2 separate regions of the Homo sapiens genome follow, and region 2 is linked to region 1. Evidence: fine-mapped expression QTL. A gene starts in region 1. The other region holds a variant in brackets. All regions are shown on one strand. Distances are from middle to middle. Region 1 holds the start of AMN (amnion associated transmembrane protein). Region 2 overlaps TRAF3 (TNF receptor associated factor 3).

Evidence for each region. PIP is the estimated chance that this variant, and not a neighbour inherited with it, causes the effect.
Region 2: its variant is the best candidate, but not a certain one, in a credible set for the expression of AMN in whole blood (TOPMed, PIP 0.58).

The regions. Positions count from the first base shown.
Region 1 is chr14:102,916,712-102,927,547 of GRCh38, forward strand. AMN (amnion associated transmembrane protein) reads left to right here and starts at 5,952. Exons shown (of 12, transcript NM_030943.4): 1 at 5,952-6,020; 2 at 7,000-7,118; 3 at 7,224-7,268. The coding sequence starts at 5,978. RefSeq lists an enhancer at 1-138 and silencers at 6,176-6,375, 7,539-7,737.
Region 2 is chr14:102,853,938-102,864,773 of GRCh38, forward strand. The region is part of intron 2 of TRAF3 (TNF receptor associated factor 3); the gene reads left to right. Among named protein-coding and RNA genes, the nearest start is that of AMN, 63 kb to the right of the region's middle. The variant T/G (reference allele first, on the strand shown) is at 5,483.

The sequences.
Region 1 (10,836 bases):
AGAGCACAGCAACCTCAGGCTACAGGAACTGGTGCAGAGTTGGAGACAGGAACCAATCAGAGACCTCACTGAGACCCTCCTGCCATGGCCTGGTCAAGGAGGTGGTGAGTCTCACTCTCCCAAGACACCTTCCCTGCCACGTGGAGAAGGCCGTGCACACGGAAACCAACACAGGAGGGCCGCCAGCCATAGCGGAGACAGACACAGGGACCAAGAGACTGAGACAGCCTCTAGATGCTGAAGCCTGCGCTGAAGCAGTTGGGCCGTGAGAGGTTCTTCTTACTGGAGGAAACTCCGGGGCTTTGCATTTCTCCACGTCCCTGCTGAGGTTCTGAGCCATTTGCAAGTTTGTGCCCTCATGTGTGCCTGAGGGCCGGGGGCACCTGTGCATATGCTCAAGGGCTTTCTGTGCACACATGGCACCTGCAGTGCGGTCGCAGCCATTCCTCAGCTCACATCTTTGCATGTGAGTGGTTCTGGTACCGCTTGTCTGCCCAGCGCCCTGGTGCCTATCTGCTGCCTCATGTGAGCTCGCTGGGCCACCCTCTGACTGCTGGACCCACCTCCAGAGGCCACTCAGGGCAAGAGAGATGGATCCCAATACCCCACCCAGCCAGCCCCAGCCCCCTATGGTCTGCCACCTTCAATTCAACCTCCTCACTGTGGCTGCAGCTGTGATCTCATCCTTCCTGTCTCATTTTAATGCCACCTTTTTCAGGAAGCCTCCCCTGACCAGGAAGCCAAGTGGCCTCACTACCCTCTCCACACAGCACAATCTAGGAATGGCCTGCCCAGGTGGAGCAGCAGTAGTCAAAGAGGCTCCATTGCTGCCCCAAGTCCTGGCCGTCCAGCACTCTGGACTCCCCTGAGGCCCCACCATCAGGAGAGGGAGCCCCAGCCTCTGGGCCCTTTCAGTCCTGGCTGTGGCCCTGAGCACCAGGGGTGAAGTTTGCTGAGCCTCACCTGGCCCTCTGCATTTATGGTGGCGGTGGGGATGGGGGGCAGAGCCAGACACTCAGGGGTGAAGCCCAACGCAGCCCTGTCAGTCAAACTGCCTCCTTCCCACTGAGAAGCAAGACAAGGGGCAAAACAGTTGTGACCCCCAAGTATCCTGTTTGTTCCTGGTTGAGGACATGTGAGTCCAGCAAGGGGCAGCCAAACTCCAGGACCGTGAGGACCCACCCTCCCCGTCCTAGGCTGGGCCAGCACCACAGAGCCACTGAGCGCAGGGACCTCTGCTCAAGGCGATCCCTCCAAGGTAAGGGGCAATGCTGGTGGCATCAGAGATGTCGAGGCAAGGCGCCCACCCGGGACACAAAAAGAGGCAGAGCTCCCCCCAGTGGCGGCTCCTTCCTCCCCGGATGCAGCATATCACTCATGAAAGAAGCAAATACCAGGCCAAGCAAAGGGGTGCTCATGGCAGAGTCTGCAGATGAGGGGTGGGGGTGCAGGAAACAGCAGGATGGCCTGGAGGGTGGAAGGCCCTGGAAGTCTCCAAGACTGAGTAGTTTCCCTTTCACCTTCAGTCCTCTGCCTACATACCCACCTCCACCATCCTTCCTGCACCCTTCCCTAGTCACTCATCCACCATCCTGCCATTGGAACCCAGTGTAACCATCCACCATTCTCCCCCTTCCATCAGCTACAACCAGTGTCTCCCCAATCCACAAGGCACACCATCCATCTCTCCACCAGTAATCCCCTAATGACCAATTCACCACCCTCCCAGAAACTCATCTCCCCATCATCAAATCATCCAAACATCATGCACAATCCATTTGCTGTTCATCTTTCTACCTCTCTGCTTCCCAACACCCACAAATCCATCCTCCATTCACTCACCACCCAGCCATTCCAACGTGCATGATGCAGATCCAAGCATGCACTGCAGACCCATTCCCCCAACCCCCATCAATCATCCATCCATCACCTAGCGCACATTCATTCACAATTTATCCACCATGCTCTGTCCACCCACCCATTGATTTATATCCAGTAACTCCTGTACTCTTATCCATCTACCTACTGTCTCTCTACTTACTACTATCCATTCACACATCATCTAAAATTCATTCACCATTATTCATCCACCATCAATCCATCCCTCCACCATTTGGTCTTGTCCACCATCCATCTACATCCAAAATCCACAACTTTTTCTCACCCACCGTGCATTGCAACAACTATCCATACATACACATCTGTTCAACAGCTACGATTTCTCTTTCACCCATCAACCATCCACTATGCAACCATGATTCATTTTGCCACCGTCCGCCCTTTCCCTCGTTCTCCTTTATTCAACTACCATCTACCATCCATCAACCATCCTTCCATAATCACTCTTCTATCCATCCATCCACCAATAACATTCACCATCTGTGAGCTGCCATCCATACACTTACCCATTCACCATCCACAATCAACTATCTACTCTTTTTTTTTTTTTTTTTTTTTTTTTTTTTAATAGAGTCTCACTCTGTCGCCCAGGCTGGAGTGGAGTGGCACAATCTCGGCTCACTGCAACCTCTGCCTCCCAGGTTGAAGCAATTCGGCCCCAGCCTCCCAAGTAGTTGGGATTACAAATGTGCACCATCACATTTGGCTCATTTTTGTATTTTTAGTAGAGACAAGGTTTCACCATGTTGTCCATGCTGGTCTTGAACTCCTGACCTCAAGTGATACTCCATCCTCAGCCTCCCAAAATGCTGGGGTTACAGGCGTGAGCCACCGCGCCCAGCCAACTATCTGCTTTCATCTACCATCCGTCATCTGTCTGTTGATCAACTGTCCTTCTACAAAATACTATATCAACCCACCACCCATCATCCACCATTCATAACGCACCACCCATCTATCCCCATTCACCATCCACCATCACCTTCCATCTACCTACCATCCACCATCCACCATTCATAACACACCACCCATCATCCCCATTCACCATCCACCATCACCTTCCATCCATCTACCATCCATCATCCACCACCCATCTATCCCCATTCACCATCCACCATCACCTTCCATCCATCCACCATCCATCATCCACCATCCATCTATCCCCATTCACCATCCACCATCACCTTCCATCCATCCACCATCCATCATCCAACATCCATCTATCCCCATTCACCATCCACCATCACCTTCCATCCATCCACCATCCATCATCCAACATCCATCTATCCCCATTCACCATCCACCATCACCTTCCATCCATCTCCCATCCATCATCCACCATCCATCTATCCCCATTCACCATCCACCATCACCTTCCATCCATCTACCATCCATCATCCACCATCCATCCCCATTCACCATCCACCATCACCTTCCATCCATCCACCATCCATCATCCAACATCCATCTATCCCCATTCACCATCCACCATCACCTTCCATCCATCCACCATCCATCATCCACCATTCATAACGCACCACCCATCTATCCCAATTCACCATCCACCATCACCTTCCATCCATCTACCACTCATTCATTCACCATTCATTTATCCACCGTCCATTCATGCATACATCCACCATCCATCTATCCACCATTCATCCATCCACCATCCACTCCCACTATCCATCCATCCACCATCTATCCATCCACACATTCACCATCCACCCATCCACAACCTACCATCCATTCATCCACCATTCACTCATCCACCATCCATTCTCCACCATCCATCTACCCATCCATCCCTCTACCCATTCACATATCCACCATCCACTCATCCATCATCCACAATTCACTCATCCAGCGTCCATTCATCCATCCACCCATTCACACATCCACCCATCTACCATCCACCATCCCTTCATCCACCATCCACCCATCATTCACTCACCCACCATCCACCATCCATCCATCCACCCATCTATATGTCCATTCACCCATTCGCCATCCACTCATCCACCACCCACCATTCATCTATCATCCCTCATCCACTGTCTACCATCCACCATTCATCCATCCACCCATTCACCCATCCACCATCCATCCATCCACCATCCACTTATCCACAATCTGCCATCCACCATTCGCCATTCATCCATCCATTCATCCACCACCCATCACCATTCACATCCACCATCGGCCATTCACCATCCACCATCCACCATCCACCTATTCACCATCCACCATTCACTCATTCACCACCCATCCTTCCATCCACCCACCATCCACCACCCACCATCCACCAACCACTATTCATCTTACCATCCACCATCCACCATCTATCATCCACTATCTACCATCTGCCGCCCATCCATCCACTTAATATTCACCATCTACTCATCACCATTCACTTGTCCATTATCCACCACCCACCAACCATCATCCACCTACCATCCATCATCCACCATTTATCCATTATCTACTTATCTACCATCCATTACCCATCCATTTATCATCCTATCCACCATCTACTATCCACCCATTATCCACTATCCACTGTCTATTCACTATCCACCATCTATTCACTATCCACCGTCCATCTCCATCCACAATTCACCATTTATGCAACCATCATCCACCATCTATCCATTTACCATCTATCTATTCACCATCCACCATCCATCCATTCAGCATTCATCACTCACCAAACATCCACCATTTAACACCCACTTTTTTTTTTTTGAGATGGGGTTTCACTCTTGTTGCCCAGGCTGGAGCACAGTGGCGTGATCTCCGATCACCACAACCTCCGCCTTCCAGGTTCAAACGATTCTCCTGCCTTAGCCTCCCAAGTAGCTGGGATTACAGGCATGTGCCACCATGCCTATCTAATTTTGTATTTTTAGTAGAGATGGGGTTTCTCCATGTTGGTCAGGCTGGTCTCGAACTCCCGACCTCAGGTGATCTGCCCGCCTTGGCCTCCCAAAGTGCTGCGGTTACAGGCGTGAGCCACCGTGCCCCGCCAACACCCACTCTTTATGATCTACCTGTCGGCCATGTATCCATTTATGCCATTATCCATCCACCACTCCCTGATTACCATCCATTCCTTTTCCTTTTTTTTTTTTTTTTTTTGAGACGGAGTCTCGCTCTGTCGCTCAGGCTGGAGTGCAGCGCACGATCGTGGCTCACTGCAAGCTCCACCTCCTGGGTTCACGCCGTTCTGCCTCAGCCCCCCAAGTAGCTGGGACTACAGGCGCCTTCTACCATGCCCGGTTAATTTTTTTGTATATTTTTAGTATAGACGGGGTTTCACCGCGTTAGCCAGGATGGTCTTGATCTCCTGACCTCGCGATCCGCCTGCCTCACCCTCCCAAAGTGCTGGGATTACAGGCATGAGCCACCACGCCCGGCCATTCATTCATTTTTCACTCACCATCCTCATCCATCCATTCATCACCCATCCACCCTCTATCACTCACCATCCACCCCGTCAACCATTTACCATTCATCTGCCATGCGTCCATATGCCGTACACCATGCACCATCAATGTTGCTGTCCATCAGCTGTCCCCTACTCACCATCCACTACTCTCCACCATCATCCACAATCCACCCTCCTATACCATCCACATACCATGTTCCATCCAGGATCTTCCTTCTATCATCCAACCACCACCCACAGCCCATGGGACAGGGGCACTGCGTGGAGAAGTGGACACCCAGTTCCAATGGTGAGCAGACTAGCTCAGCCCTAGCAGCACACAGGACAGAGAAAGGGGTGAATTCAAAGGTCGTTTATTCCCCCTCCCGGCAAGACACCCATTTTACAGGGTAGGTCAGTCTCGCCAAGCCCTTCTTCTTTGCCCTTCTTCCTGAGAACCTAAGGTGTTCAGGCCCTGCAGGGGCGGGTAAGGGGAGGCTGAGAAGGTGCCTCCCAGGGGCCTGAAGAGTCGGCCCTGGGCGGGTCTGGAGGTAAATGTGTAACCGACCCTGGTGCCCCCACCCGACCTGCCTGGTCACGTGGGTCCAGTGGGGCAAAGTCTCCTGGTGGGGTGCAAGGAGCCGAGGCGAGATGGGCGTCCTGGGCCGGGTCCTGCTGTGGCTGCAGCTCTGCGGTGAGCCGGGACCACACCGGTGCGGGCCCGGACGGTAGCGGTCTGTCAGGACCCAGGGCCGAGGTCGCTCTAGGCCTGGAGGGTGAAGATCTTCCGAGGAGTGGGCAGGGAGGGCTTTGGAGGGTTGGGGGCGTGAAACTCGGCCCTGCCTCCCTCGTCTGGCGAGTGCGCAGCCCGGAAGTGCGCGGCCAGTGCATCGGGCGGTGCGGGAGAGGAGAGGAGGGGCTCCGGGAACCTCGGCCAGCCCCGGCCTCCGGCGGCTCCTGCCCTCGCGGTTTTTCCGTCTGCGAAATGGGCGCGGTCCCCAGAACCTGCCGAGAGCAGCGAGTGTGCGCCTGCGGGGCTCGGCAGACCGCCTCAGCTTCCCGGTCCCCAAGGGAGCACTGAGCCCTCCTCCGCCTTCACACCAGGCCGGCGCGTGTCCCTGGCGCCCCCTTCCCTAAACCCCTCGCGGCTCCCTCAGGACAACCCCACCCACCACATTCAGGGCCGGCCTGACCTGGTCCTGCCGCCCCCAGCCCCTTCTTACTTCTCATACCGGGTTGCGCTCTGTCGCAGCTCTTCCCGGCCCAGGTAGGACTCCTCCGGGAAGCCTTCCTGATTCCAAGGCCGAGAAGAGGTCTGTGCTGCCCCATCCTCCTCCATGCCCCAGTTGTCACTGTCCTTAACAACGCTGTCCTCTGCTCCAGCGCCAGGCAAACTGGGGGCAGTGCCGGGAGGCTATCTAGGCAGGCGTCCTGCAGGGCGCGTTTGAGCGGGCTCTGCAGGTATCAGTAGAAGTCCGTTGGAGAGCGCCCGGGCAGGGCGCCCACAGTCTGGCCGGGAGGGACCAGGGTCTGGGTCCGGGCCCCCGGGGATGGGGTTCCTATGCGTCCCGGGTGATCCGCGCGGACCTTCCGCACTTCTCTGGGTGGGTGGCCTTCCCTGAGAAGGGAGCATCCCGGAGAGCATCCCGGGCACTCAGTCGCCTCCTCCCCAGCACTGACCCAGGCGGTCTCCAAACTCTGGGTCCCCAACACGGACTTCGACGTCGCAGCCAACTGGAGCCAGAACCGGACCCCGTGCGCCGGCGGCGCCGTTGAGTTCCCGGCGGACAAGGTGCCTGGGAGCGCCGGCGGGGTCGGTGATGGGCCTGGACCCCTGAGACCGTGTGGCCCCGGTGGGGGTTGCTCCCGGCTCGGCTGAGGCAGCTTCTTCCTGCAGATGGTGTCAGTCCTGGTGCAAGAAGGTCACGCCGTCTCAGACATGGTAAGGCCGGGCTGCTACTGCCACTGGGCTGGGGGTTCACAGAGTCTCTGAAGCGCCTTCAGGGACTGCTGTGCCTTGAGGGCGGACCCCACCGGCATGGAGGCACTGCAGGACTGGGACTTTGGCCTCTGGAGAATATTCTAGGAGGCAGGGAGTGGGGGGGAACCTAGGGGAGCTTGGTCCCATGGTCCCAGCCAGGCTGTGTCCTGGGAGGGATGGGAGGCACCCCTGTCCCCACAGCCCTTGTGATGCCCAGCAGTGGGTGGTCTTCCCAGGAAGCGCCTGCTCCATGCCCTTCCCCCAAAGCCTTGCCTTGTCCTGGTGCCTAAAGCTCCATCTTTAGAACACTAGGGAAAGTGTCCCCAACACCCCCCCCTCTACCCACCATCCGGGTCCCTGGCCTGTTAGGAAGTGGCCGCCCAGGAAGAGGCGAGCCCACTCCTGCCTGGCTCTGCCTCCCTTCAGATCAGATCAGATTCTCCTAGGGACCCCTATTGTCACTGCGCCAGCGAGGGGCCTGGGTGGGTGTGCACTCCTTAAGTGGCTGACATCTGAGATGGGACAGCTTAATCCTGAAACCTTCCCCACTCCCATCAGTCCATGGAAGAACTGTCTTCCACAAAACTGGTCCCTGGTGCCAAAAAGGTTGGGGACTGCTGCCCTAGGGGACCTTTTTCTCAAACTGCTTCACACAACACTCCAAGAACATGATGGGAACTGGGAGGAAAGCGGGTTCCATGAGTAGGTAAGTTTGGGAAATGCTGCAGCCTGCACTTTCCTGGAGCTTCATCACGTATTAAAGGCTCTGATAAGGCCCCAGAGAAAGAAGCTAATTTCCTTGTTTAAGGTGGAGTTCCGCAAGCTACAGGCCAAATGCAGCCCCTACGGGTGGAGCAAGGAACGGTTTTTACACTTTGTAATCGTTGGGGAAAAAAAGAACAATCTTTTGTGGCACTTGAAAAATATATGACATTCACACCTCAGCGACAGTAAATACAGCTTCACTGGCACACAGCCTGCCCGCTTGGTTGAGTATCCTCGGTGGCCACTGTCCCATTGCATCGGCAGCCCACCAGCTTCCAGGGTGACTGTGGGGCCTGCAGGCCAAGCCTCTGGGCAAAAGCTTCCTTCCAGCCCCTTCACAGCCACTCCTGGGCTGCGTCCTCATCCTGTCACCTGCACACCTGCCAGCTCAGTCACTCCTGAGTGAGGGTCACTGGTGAGCTGGGTCGGGGTGTCGGCTCCAGATGTGGGGTCCAGGCCTGGGGCCCCCGCGTGTGCGGGTGGGGAGGATGGCTCAATGGGCTTGGCCTGGCCCATTCCTGCCCCATGCGGGGTCAGGGACCCTGGGCCTCATTTCCACCCCAGGGCCGCTTGGTTCCTTCCTTCAGGTTTTCCAAAGCTGCCTTAACCCAAAAGCTGCCACACACTGGGGAGGGCACCCACAGCAAGATGGCGACGCTCCCACCCGGGAAACAGGAGGAGGGCAGGGAGAGGGAGGCGGTTGCCCCTTGTGGCCCGGCCCCCAGAACCCACGCATAACCTTGGCAACCAGGCAGCCCGAGTGAGGGGGGCACTGGGAGCTGATGGGGGACCTGTGGGCAGAGGAGTCAGGCTGGGCTGGGGGTTCCAGGGCATGGATTTCCCCCTACTCCCCTCCCCTGCCGGCCTCCTTACTTTCATGATCTCCTTTGGAAGCACTTGGGCTCTGAAAGGAGGCAATACTCCATTCATTCATCTATTCAATAATTCATTCATTGATCATCCATTGGCCGGTGGGAACAGCGCAGGGGCAGGGGACAGTGGCCCCAGGGTCCCAGCCTGCAGAGGCCGAATTCACCCAGAGCCGCCCAAGCACCCCCATCCCCTGCCCGCGTCGGCTATGTTGCCCTCCACACCCCTGGCTCCCAGCTTCATCCATCTGCCTAGATGAGGCCCGAGTAACAGGCCGTGCACATCAGTGCCTTACTTTGTAATTCTGTGGTTGGGAGCGTCCCTCCCTGCGATTTTCCTTTTCCTTGCCCTTCCTCCCATTTCTACCTTTTGCCTGCTTTCTTGTTGGGGGAGTCTCCTGTCTTTCACCCATCCCCCTGCCTTGGCTGGAGGCTTTGCAAGTCTGCTCACTGTGGACTTGCCTGCAGTGTCCTGTGCTGAACAGAAACCTTCATTTTAATCGACCTAATGCAAAACGCCTTACCTTAGAACTGTGTTTTTTCTGTTTCGTTTGAGAATCGCGTCTGCTCCTCAGTCACAATGGTAATGGACTGTGTACCTATGGGGCACGTGCACCAGCGAGGGCTCCTGCTGTGTTTCTCTCCTTAGAGTGAACCCAGCTTCCAGCATCCTCCGCCTTGCCCTTTTGTTCTAGCACTGCTGGAATCCGTCGTGTGCCTGGGTGTTGTGGGTCTCTCTGAGCCTTGTCTTCAAGTCCACAGGCCGCTTTGCCGACCCTACACTATCCACACAGTGGCTCTGCAGGATGGCTTAATATCCATCCCCTTCACTCCTGCTCCAAGGTTCTTTGTGGATCTCATTGTTGCAGATAAATTGTAGAATAGGTTTGCCAGGTAACAACTACCACCACCACCACCAAAAAAACCCTGGATTTTTTTTTTTTTTTTTTTTGAGATGGAGTCTTGCTCTGCCACCCAGGCTGGAGTGCAGTGGTGTGATCTCGGCTCAGTGCAACCTCTGCCTCCCGGGCTCAAGCGATTCTCCTGCCTGAGCCTCCCAAGTAGCTGAGACTACAGGAATTTTGATTGGGATAAATAACAGCCTTATGCTGTCAAGCCATCCATTCAAGAGCATGGACGGACTCTCTCTAAATATTTCAGGTCATCCATGGCCTCTTTAGCATCTTAAAGTTTTCCCTGTAGAGGTCTTATATTGTATTGGTTAATTCATCAATACTTTGTTAAGTTTGTTTTTTTGAGACAGGGTCTCACTCTGTTGCCCAGGCTGGAGTGCAATGGCGTGATCACGGCTCACTGCAGCCTTGACCTCCCTGGGCGCAAACAATCCTCCCACCTCAGCCTCCCGAGTAGCTGGGACTACAGGCTTGTGCCACCACGCCCGGCTAATTTTTGTAGTTTTTGTAGAGATGGGGGTCTCACTATGTTGGCCAGGCTGGTCTTGAACTCCTGGGCTCGAGTGATATGCCCGCTTCGGCCTTCCAAAGTGTTGGGATTACAGGCATGAGCCACCGCTCCTGGCCTTAAGTTTGGTTTCTATTATAAATGTTGCCCTATATTTAAAAATTATATCCTCTTTTTATTTTTAAATTTTTTGTAGAGATGGAGTCTCACTATGTTTCTCACCAGGCTGATCTCAAACTCCTGGCCTTACCTACTGTGCTCGTCTGTTCAACTATTATGTTACGTTTCTATTTTTCCCCTTCGTTCTTTAAAAAACGGTGTTCTTGGTATGCTTCCTCCTGGGAACCCCTCCCTGTTCCTGAGGCGCTTTGAGCTATGACACATTCCGTCCCCACGGCTCCACCTCTGCACCTGTGGGGGGACTTGCCCTGCTGGCAGTGCCACACCCTCAGGTGTGCACGGAACTGAAGTGT
Region 2 (10,836 bases), 63 kb before region 1:
CTCCATTCTTCGCTTGCCCCAGCCTCTGGCAACCACTAATCTACTTTCTGTATCTATGAATTTGCCTATTCTGGACATTTCATGTAATAGGAATCATACAATATGTGGCCTTTTGTTTCTGACTTCTATAACTTACATAATGTTTTCAGGGTCCATCCATGTTGTAGCATATATAGTACCTCATTTTTTTTTATGCCTAAGTAAGAGTTCATTGTATGAATAGACCACATTTTGTTTATCCATTTACCAGTTGACCATTTGAGCTGTTTCTACTTTTTTTTTCGCTATTGTGAATAGTGCTGCTGTGAACGTTTGTGAACAAGTTTTTGCGTGAACAGACTGGTTCTCTTGGTATATACATAGAGATGGAATTGTTGGGTCATACGGTAATTCTGTGTTTAACTTTTGGAGGAACTGCCAGATTGTTTCCACAAGGGCTGCACCATTTTACATTCCTGTCAACAATATGTGAAGATTCCCATTTCTCCATATCCTTGCTAACACTTGTGATTTTCTGTTTTTAAAATTTTAGCCATCCAAGTGACTAAGTGGTTATAGTAGGTTTTGGTTTTGGTTTTGAGACAGAGTCTTACTTTTGTGTTGCCCAGGCTGCAGTGCAGTAGTGCAAACATGGCTCACTGCAGCCTCACCTCCTGGGCTCAAGTGATTCCCACCTCAGCCCCCCAGATAGCTGGGACTACAGGTGTGCACCACCACACCCAGCTATTTTTTGTATTTTTTTGTAGAGATGGGGTTTTTTACTGTGTTGCCCAGGCATGTCTTGAACTACTGGCTTCAAGTGATCTGCCCACCTCAGCCTTTCAAAGTGCTGGGATTATAGGTGTCAGCTGCCGCACCTGGCTGTTTTTTTTTTTTTTTTTTTAACAATGTTTTAAAATAAATTGTGGTGAGATACACATAACATTAGCCATTTAAAAGTGAATGATTCAGTGGCATTTTGTACATTCACAGTGTTCTGCACCATGATCTCTATCTGGTTCCAACACATTTTTTTCGTTCCCAAAAGGAAACCCCATACCCATAAGCAGTGAGTCCCCATTATGCCTCCTTTCAACCACTGGTAACTACCAGTCTGCTTTCTGTCTTGTGGATTTCCCTATTCTGTATGTTTCATGTAGATGAAATCGTAGTGTGTGCCCTTTGCTTCTGACTTACTCACTTAGCATGTTTTCAGGGTTCATCCATGTTGTAGCATGAATCAGAACTTGATTCCTTTTTAAGGCTGAATGGTATTCACTGTCTGGATAGATTACATTTTGTTTATTCATGTATTGATGGACATTTTGGTGGTTTCTACCTTTTTGGTTGTTGTGAAGAGTACTGCTGTGAACATGTGTATACATGTGTTTCTTTGAGTACCTTTTTTCAGTTATTTTGAGCATGTACCTAAGAGTGGAATTGCTGGGTCATATGGTAAAATGTTTTAACTTTTTGAGGAACTGCCAGCCTCTTTTCCTTAGTGGCTGAACCATTTTGCGTTTCCACAGCAGTATATGAGGGTTTCAGTTTTTCCACATCCTAACACTTGTTATTTTCCTTTTTTAAAAAAATTATAGGCCAGGCGCAGTGGCTCACACCTGTAATCCCAGCACTTTGGGAGGCCGAGGCAGGCAGATCACCTGAGCTCAGGAGTTTGAGACCACCCTGGGCAACATGGTGAAACCCCATCTCTACTAAAATACAAAAAATTAGCCAGGCGTGGTGGCACCAGCCTGTAGTCCCAGCTACTAGGGAGCCTGAGGCACGAGAATCACTTGAGCCTGAGGGATGGAGGTTGCAGTGAGCCAAGATCATGCCACCGCACTCCAGCTTGGGCTACAGAATGAGACTTTATCTAAAAAAAAAAAAAAAGGCCAGGTACGTTGGCTCATGCCTGTAATTCCAACATTTTGGGAGGCCAGGGTGGGAGGATCACTTGAGCCCAGGAGTTTGAGAACAACCTGGGCAATATAATGACACCCCGTCTCTACAGACAATAAAATAACTAGCTGGGCATGGTTGTGTATGCCTGTATTCCCAGGTATTCGGGAGGCTGAGTTGGGAGGATTGCCTGAGCCCAGGAGTTCAAGGCTGCAGCAAGTCACGTTCACACCACTGCACTCCATCCAGCCTGGGCAACAGAGTAAAACCCTGTCTCACAAAAAAAAAAAAAAAAAAAAAAAATTACAGCCATCCCAGTGGGTGTGAAGTGGGAACTCACTGTGGTTTTGATTTGTATTTTCTTTTTTAAGTGAAAGCAAGTTTATTAAGAAAGCAAAGGAATAAAGAATGGCTATTCCATAGGCAGAGCCCATTGCCACTCAGCTGCTTATACTTATTGTTACTTCTTGATTGTATGCTAAACAAGGGGTGGATTATTCATGAGTTTTATGGGAAAGGGGTGGGCAGTATCTGGAACTGAGGGTTTCTCCCCTTTGTAGACCATACAGGGCAACTTCCTGACGTTGCCATGGTATCTGGAAACTGTCATGGTGCTGGTGGAAGTGTCTTTTAGCATGCTGATGCATTATAATTAGAGTATAATGAATAGTAAGGACAACCAGAGGTCACTTTCATCGCCATCTTGGTTTTGGTCAGCTTCTTTACTGCAGCCTGTTTCATCATTAAGGTCTTTATTACCTGTATCTTGTGCCGACCTCCTGTCTCATCCTGTGACTTAGAATGCCTAACCTCCTGGGAATGTAGCCCAGTGGGTCTCAGCCTTATTTTACTCACCCCCTATTCAAGATGGAGTTTCTCTGGTTCAGACACCCCTGACATGTTTCCCCCCTCCCTTTTACAGCAGAACCCTTAATCCTAACAGTCGTAGAGGGACAAAGATCCATCTTCTGTAACTTCTTCAGGCTGAATGGGGCGATGATATTCCTGCCTAACTATGAGGGTCTCTTGTATTCAGGGTAGAGAAGAGCTCAGTCAGAAAGCATCAATATGGTGAGGGCCATTCATAGCTCTGAGTTCCAACAAAAGGTGGTATCTGGAAGATTAATAAGTGTTCAGTTTAAGAAAACATTCAGTAAACTTATCCTGCATTCCTACACAAAGAGTACAACAGCAATATATTCCACAACAGTAAAGTAGAATAACTAAAATTATCCTGAGTAAACTAAACAAGAAGGCTTTCCATGAACTGGGCAGTTGTTGAAACCAAACTGATACATCGGGTTGCTAGCCGACTCCAGTATGTGCCCAGAATTAGAATATTGATCCAGATTTTTACATTACCCATCTCTCTTGTTTCTTGTGAGCAGCAGCCAGAGATCACTGATTGGTTCACAGGAGTAAGCAGGGTTAGCCTAAGTTGCAGAAAAAAAACTTAAAAACAACTGATGAGACTAGAATCTAGTAACAGGTGTACCAAGTTCCTGAAACATAATTTATTTTCTCTCTCCGGTCTCCCATTTTTACTGAAGACAAATCATGGTACAACTGATTTGCTTTATTATACTTGGCCTGATTATTTGTATAAAGTGCAGCAAGAACAGTTATTTTTCACATAGGTTTTTAAAATTGGCTTTGATGAAACTTCATTCCATAAAAGGAAGCTTAGATAAGACTTTTTGTTAAAGCCAAGCCCAGCCATGGGTTTGTACCCTCAAATAACCTGTGAGTTGGGAAATTCCTCTCCTCTTGAGGTCCCAAGATGGCGTGGGGTTCCTGGGCCTGTCGGAAAGTGACATTCTTTACTAACCACAGGTCAGGAACCCTGCACAGGAACTGTGTAGACAAGGTATGAGGCCAGTTTTCCCAAGGAACTTTTATTGGCTCCATAAGTCAAGTTTGAGTCCTTAAAGGAAAGCACACCATTCCCATCAAAGTCCTGGTAAAACAACTAGTTTCTCTAATTGTGTCCTGTTGCAAAAGAAAACAGATTCTTATTGCACTTGTGCAAATAACTATATTGCCATAAGTTAATACTCACAAATAGTTTCCAAATTCCAGAGAAAGCAGGTAGAGAAAAACAAATATGCTCCAAATTTTGTTCACAGGAGTATACTTTACTCAATTGTCAAAAGCTGTAAGTAGCTCAAAAGTTTTCTTGGCTCTGAAAAACAAAAATGATCAGCAACGTTTTAAGCAAAAAGTCAGAAAAGATTACTTGAGTCTTTTGTTCAGTCCATGCAGTTAACTCCTGTTCTACTTGATATTCATAATCATTTCAGCTCTCCATGAGAGTCCTGAAAGAACCTCTGTTCTTCTTTTTTTTTTTTTTCTTGAGACAGTCTCACTCTGTCGCCCAGGCTGGCATGCAATGGCGTGATCTTGGCTCACTGCAACCTCTGCCTCCTAGGTTTAAGCGATTCTCCTGCCTCAGCCTCCTGAGTAGCTGGGCTTACAGGTACGCACCACCACGCCCAGCTAATTTTTGTATTTCTTAGTAGAGACGGGGTTTCACCACATTGGTCATGCTGGTCTCGAACTCCCAACCTCAGGTGATCCACCCACCTCGGCCTCCCAAAGTGCTGGGATTACAGGCGTTAGCCACTGCACCCGGCCTAAGAACCTCTATTCTAATGTCACAATCTCCAAAGTTATTAGAAACCTGCATCCAAGAGCACCTGTTGAAGTCCTATAATAGCTGACTATAAACCACCTTTTGAAGAGGATCAACACAGCAGTTGTCTGTGGTTGACAGAAAGTCTTAAGGCAGCCACTATTAAAGGCACAATTGACTAGGAATTTTGATTACTTTTGTGGCATACGATTTTACATAATAATTGTAATTATTAGTAACATATGCTAAGTCATATCACAATTCTAGGAGTTTCCCATTACTTTGGAACACATACCAATAACATATTTATATAAATACAGGTCAAAGAAAGCCAAACACCATTTCATATTTGACAGTGCTTCCTGTATGATTTTTATACCAAATAAGCCAAATTTCACCATTGCATTAGTGTACTATTAATGTTAAACCCAATTCTTAATAAAACATTATAGACAAATCTACCCAATTTTAATGTCAGACCAGAAGGTAAGATTCTTATAAACCTTTTATAACCCTTTACAAATTTTTGTTAAAGAGCAGATCAGTGCTCTAAGAAAACCTTGTTACGCTTTTATTCCAGTGTTCAATTTACGGAACTGTATCATACCCCTTTAACTTCAGCCAGTATGTTCACACACAGAATTTCTTTTAAAAGATTAATTTTTCACAAAATTTCCACAACTTTTGCAAACCTTCAGCTTTATCCTAACTTAAAACAATCCCTTAACCCTTTAATTTAGGCCAAAAAAAAAAAAAATCCACATTCACATGTCTCCTTCTCTTTTACCAAAAACACATTTCACTTTCCCTACACACCTTGCATGTAAAACTGTTTTTCCAGTAGTCTCAAGTAGATGTTACACTGTTAACTCTTAGCAGTGTTTATTTTTAGTGAAAAACTTGGTAAGCAATTTTAATTATGTACTAGGTATGGAGCCTAGGACACCAGGCAGAAGTGCAGATAAGGTC[T/G]GACACTTACTAGCATAGCTAGGAGGCATGGCTAACTCCACATGTCCCTAGGCCTTACCTAGAATCTAATGGCTGTAGGTAAGTTTAACAATTTTCAAAAGTCAAAGAGGCAGTTTATAAAGTTAAAGCGTTTAGCAAACCTAAAATTTGACCTGCCTGATTTAGACCGAATGTCTTTATTTTACCAATAATCTTTAAAATTTTCTTTACTTCCCACAGCTTAAGTCACACGAATTAAAAGGCATTACGCTTTTTATTTTTCTGACAAAATATTTGATTTAAACACTTATTTTTAAGCCAATTAATCAAAGCCTTTTATATCACACACACAACACATATAAATACACAGACAGAAGAAAATGTAGTAGTTGTAAGGTTTTTCCTTTGCCAGTTTCTTAATTGGATTAGTGGCTTTATGGTGGAGCCCTGGAGGAACAGGGCAAGGAAAGCATGCAGTTTCTATGGCCTAATAAGCAGGCACAATTGGAAGGCAAGACAGAGCCCCAAAACTTGAGGGTCCCATTTTTATATTGATCCTGGATCCCCCAAAGAGAAACGCTACAGAACACAACAGTGCAATGATTTTACCACATATTTCATTGCCAGGCAACCCAGAGCCAATCAGCCCTTTCTGAGATCAGCCCATCCCCCATGGGAGTCTTATCTCTCAGTGGGGAAGGGTGAGGACATCTCCATACCTTCCAGGTGGCCAAGAGCATGCTCTTAATCCAGACACACAAAGATCCAAGTATCCCCCACAGTGCCATTTAGCCATCCCCAAAAGTATTAAATGTATTTCCTACCTAGTTATATTACACACCAAAGTTCTCTCATAATGTGAAGTAATTTCTGATACCCCCAAAGTAAAAAACAGATAATGCAGTGCAAAACAGAACAGAGCCATAGATTTTGAGAGGGATCTATCCACTTTTAATAATTCTCGGGGTTCCATGAGGAAAATAGAGGTTTTTCCCAAAACAGGGTATGTGGTGCCTCCTCTGTTTTTCCTAAGAAGTCCCAGGCTGTTAGAGCTTGAATATCGACTTTTAATTAAGCTGACTTTTAACCATAGCACTCTTTAAAAAGTCGTTTTAAATATCTTATTACCCAACTTTAGCCACGCCAAACTGCCAATATTCCTGGCTTTTTAACTTTTCCAAATGTAACCTCCCAGGTGCTGAGAGAAAGGAAAATTTAAGACAGTTTATGAAAGGGAGGAGAATCAACAAATGGCACAGGTCACCCAAATGCCAACCAGAAAGTGCTCATTTTCTAGGCTAAAAATTGAACCTGAACTCAGGCCACCATTGTGAAAAGACAAAGCCTTAACTGCTAAGCTACAGCATTGGGCAGTTTCCACTGCTTTTCCCAGAAGGAGCCCAGAGCAGTAAATTTTGAGCTTGCAAAGGCTTTTAACTGCTCAAGATAATTTGTAGAGCTAACTACTACCCCAAAATCCCTGTTGCCTGGAAGGCAGAGACAAAGAGAAAGTACTGCCATATGATTACAAGGTCAAGCTCTCAGGGACATTTCTCAACATGTGGTCTTTGGGCAAGATGGTGGCCCTGAATAACAGAAAAGATAGGAAAGGGAAAGGAAAGAAAGGGAGAAAAGCATTGCCTGCAGCAGGCTGGGGAATGCAAGAAGCTCAGGGAGGCCAGAGAAAGACCCGCCCATTGCAGCTGACACTGAATCAGAAGTTCAGGTGGCTGCTTTTTGGGAGCGTAGGGATCTTTCCCAGCATTCCCATCAGCTCTAGTTTCCCCTTTTGGGGAGGAAAAAGCTCCCCATGTCCCATAATCTTGGACATGTCTAGTTCTGTCACCCACAGCCATCAGCAAAGAGTGCAAGGCAGATTAATCCAAAGAGAATAGCAGTTAACATCCCATAGTGCCAAACTGGTTCTTAGTCGAGAGGGACTCTACTGAGAGGGGCCTCCAACCCCCTAAATTTTAGGAAGGACTCTAACCTTCCTAAGTTGGGCATCAAACCCAAGTTCAGTCAAGCGTGCTTGCCTTTTATTAACAGGCACCTTTATCCCTCTCTTAGGAGAGACTCTAACTCTCCTAAGTTGGGCCTCTAACCCAATCCCATCCTTTACCCAGGTAACTGCATCCCACTTACCCAAGGTCGGCCAATCAGTGCTGCAGTCTATTTCCTTTGGGTTGGGAGTCTCCTCAGTATCATCCCTTTGGGGCTTGCCAGGAAGATGTTACCGGAAAGGGGTCCCAATCCAGACCCCAAGAGAGGGTTATTGAATCTCATGCAAGAAAGAATTCAGGGTGAGTCTATAAAGTGAAAGCAAGTTTATTATAGAAGTAAATAAAAAAGTGGCTACTCAATAGGCAGAGCAGCCGATTTGTATTTTCTTAATGATATTGATATTGGACATCTTTTTATGCGCTTGTTGAATATTTCAGTATCTTCCTTGGAGAAACGTTTATACAGATCCTTTGCTCATTTTAAAATTGGGTTGTCTTTTTGTGGTTGAGTTATAAGAGTGCTTTATATATATCCTGGATGCTAAACCCTTATTAGATATGTGATTTGCAAGTATTTCCTCCCATTCTGTTAATTGTCTTTTCACTTTATTGATAATCTCATTTGGTGCTCAAAAGTTTTTCATTTTGATGAATGAAGTTCAGTTTATCTAGTTTTTTATTTTGTTGCTTATACTTTTGTTGTTGTATCTAAGAATCCATTGCCAAATTCAGGGTCATTAAAGATTTACCTCCTGTGTTTTCTTCTAAGAGCTTTCTAATATATTTTTTGGGGATCTCATTCATTTTTGAAAGATAGTTTTACTGGATATAGAATTCTTGGTTGAAAAATAGCCAGACATGATGGCACTGGCCTGTAGTCCCAGCTCCCAGAGAGACTGAGGCAGGAGGATTGCTTGATCCCAGGAGTTGGAGACTGCCGTGAGCTATGATTGCACCACACTGCACTCCAGCCTGGGTGACAGAGTAAGATCCCTTCTCCAAAAAAAAAAAAAAAAAAAATTATTGGTTGACAGATTTTTTTCTTTCAGCCCTTTAATTTGTCACCTTTCGGCCTCCATGGCTTTAGATGAGAAATCAGTTGTTAATCTTACTGAGAAATCCTTGTACTTGAAGAGTCACTTCTCTCTTGCTGCTTTCTACAGTTTGGCTACAGTGTGTCTGGGTGTGGCTCTTTGAATTTATCCTACTTGGAGTTTGTCGAGCTTCCTGGTTATGCAGATTAATGTTTCTCATTAAATACAGGACTTTTCTACCATTATTTCTTCAAACTTTTTTTTGTCTTTTTTTCTCTCTGTCTTTCTAAGACCCTATAATATGTATGTTGGTACAATTGATGGTGTCCCACAAGTCTCTGAGGCTGTTTATTTTCTTCATTATTTTTTCTTCTGTTCCTTACACTTTATAATCTCAATTATCCTATCTTTAAGTTCTCTGATTCTTACTGCTGTTTATTTCTGCTGTTGAGCCCCTGCAGTGAATTTTTCATTTCAGTTTTTGTGCTTTTCAACTCCAGAATTTTTGTTTGGTTCTTTTTTTAAACTATTTTTTTCTTTATCAATATTTTCTATTCAGTGAGACATTGTTCTGATGGATCTTGTAGATTTTTGAACATGGTTTTCTTTAGTTCTTTGAACATATTTAAAATAGCATATTTAAAGTCTTCATCCATACGTCTAATGCCTGGGCTTCCTCTTAAACAATTTCTGTTAGTTGCCTTTTTTCTGCATGTGAACCATACTTTCTTGTTTCTTTGCATGCCTTGTGATATTTTGTTGAAAACTGGAACTTTTGAATTTTTACCGTGGCAACTCTGGAAATGAGATTCTTCCTTCTCCCCCAGGGTTTATTGACTGCTTGTTACAGTCATTGTTTGTATAGTTACTTTTCTGAGCTAATTTTATATAGTATATATTCTTTATCATGTGTGGCCTCTGAGTTCTCTGTTCCATTAATATAGTGGTCAGCTTGTGATTAGACAGAGATTTAAGCGCCTAGAACAAAAAATGTCTCCCAGTCTTTTGAGATGAGGTCTGTGTGTATGTTGGAGCACACCTTCAACACTCAGCCAGGCATTTGACGGTGATCCCTGAGCATTCGCTGCCTGCTTGCACAGATCCTGAAGGTCAGCCAGAGGTGAAAGCCTAGGGCCTTTTCAGGTCTTTCCTGAACATGTACACAGCCCTGGGCATTTGTGGAGCCTTCTGGATTTCCAAGAATGTGTCAGAGCTTTTCAAACCTTTATTTTCCAAAACATCTTACTCCTCAGCTTTTCTTCCCAAGCTTTTGGTTAAATCTATTGTTTGCCTCAACTGTTATTCAGTGCTTCAGGCAGCAGCAAATATGTTTGTCTGTAAATGTTTCCAATAACCTTTTCCCATCTTTCCCTAGTAGATGCCTCAGCACTGGGAGGTAAAGTCAAGCCCTTTGAGCCAGTCTTCCAGGGACTCAGTAGACAGGTCGAAACAAACAACTGCAGTTCTTTGCCGATGAGGCCCATTCTGCTCCCTCTGGGACCAGTGCATGCACCGGAGTGGCAGCCTCTTGTCTTCTAGGCCACTGCGGCAGCCAGGATGGGACCAGAGAAAGTTAAAATGCCATGGAACTCGCGGTTCTTGCTGAGATTCACCTGGTTTTTCTTGATTAAGCATTCTTCTGATTGCTGCAAGTTTTTAATTAGTTTTCCAAAGTTTTAAAATAGTAGATTCTAACGGTTTTTGCCTTTTTCTTTTTTTTTTTTTTTTTTGGAGACGGATTCTTGCGCTCTCACCCGGGCTGGAGTGCAGTGGCGCCATCACGGCTCACTGCAAGCTCCGCCTCCCAGGTTCACGCCATTCTCCTGCCTCAGCCTCTCTAGTAGCTGGGACTACAGGCACCCGCCACCACGCCCGGCTAATTTTTTGTATTTTTAGTAGAGATGGGGTTTCACCGTGTTAGCCGGGATGGTCTCGATCTCCTGACCTCGTGATCTGCCCACCTCGGCCTCCCAAAGTGCTGGGATTACAGGTGTGAGCCACCGCGCCCGGCCTAGTTTTTGCCAGTTTTTAAAATGTGTATATTGAAGGATGGACTTTGAGTTCCTTACTCAGCCATTTTTGTGGACATGATTTACTAGTCATAATTTAAATTGAATATTTTAGGACATATTAAATTATGATCAGTTTCGAGGTTGCCAAATTTACGTACACCTTACTTGGTTACACAAGAGATTTAAGATGGCTTACAAGGATAAATAGCATAAGAGATGCAATAAATTATCATTGTCAGTATTTGTTGGGTTGAGGGCATGTTAGTAAAAACTGCCCTCCCTGCTGTTAAGAACTTGATCCTACAGACAGAAATGTTTCCTTGGCA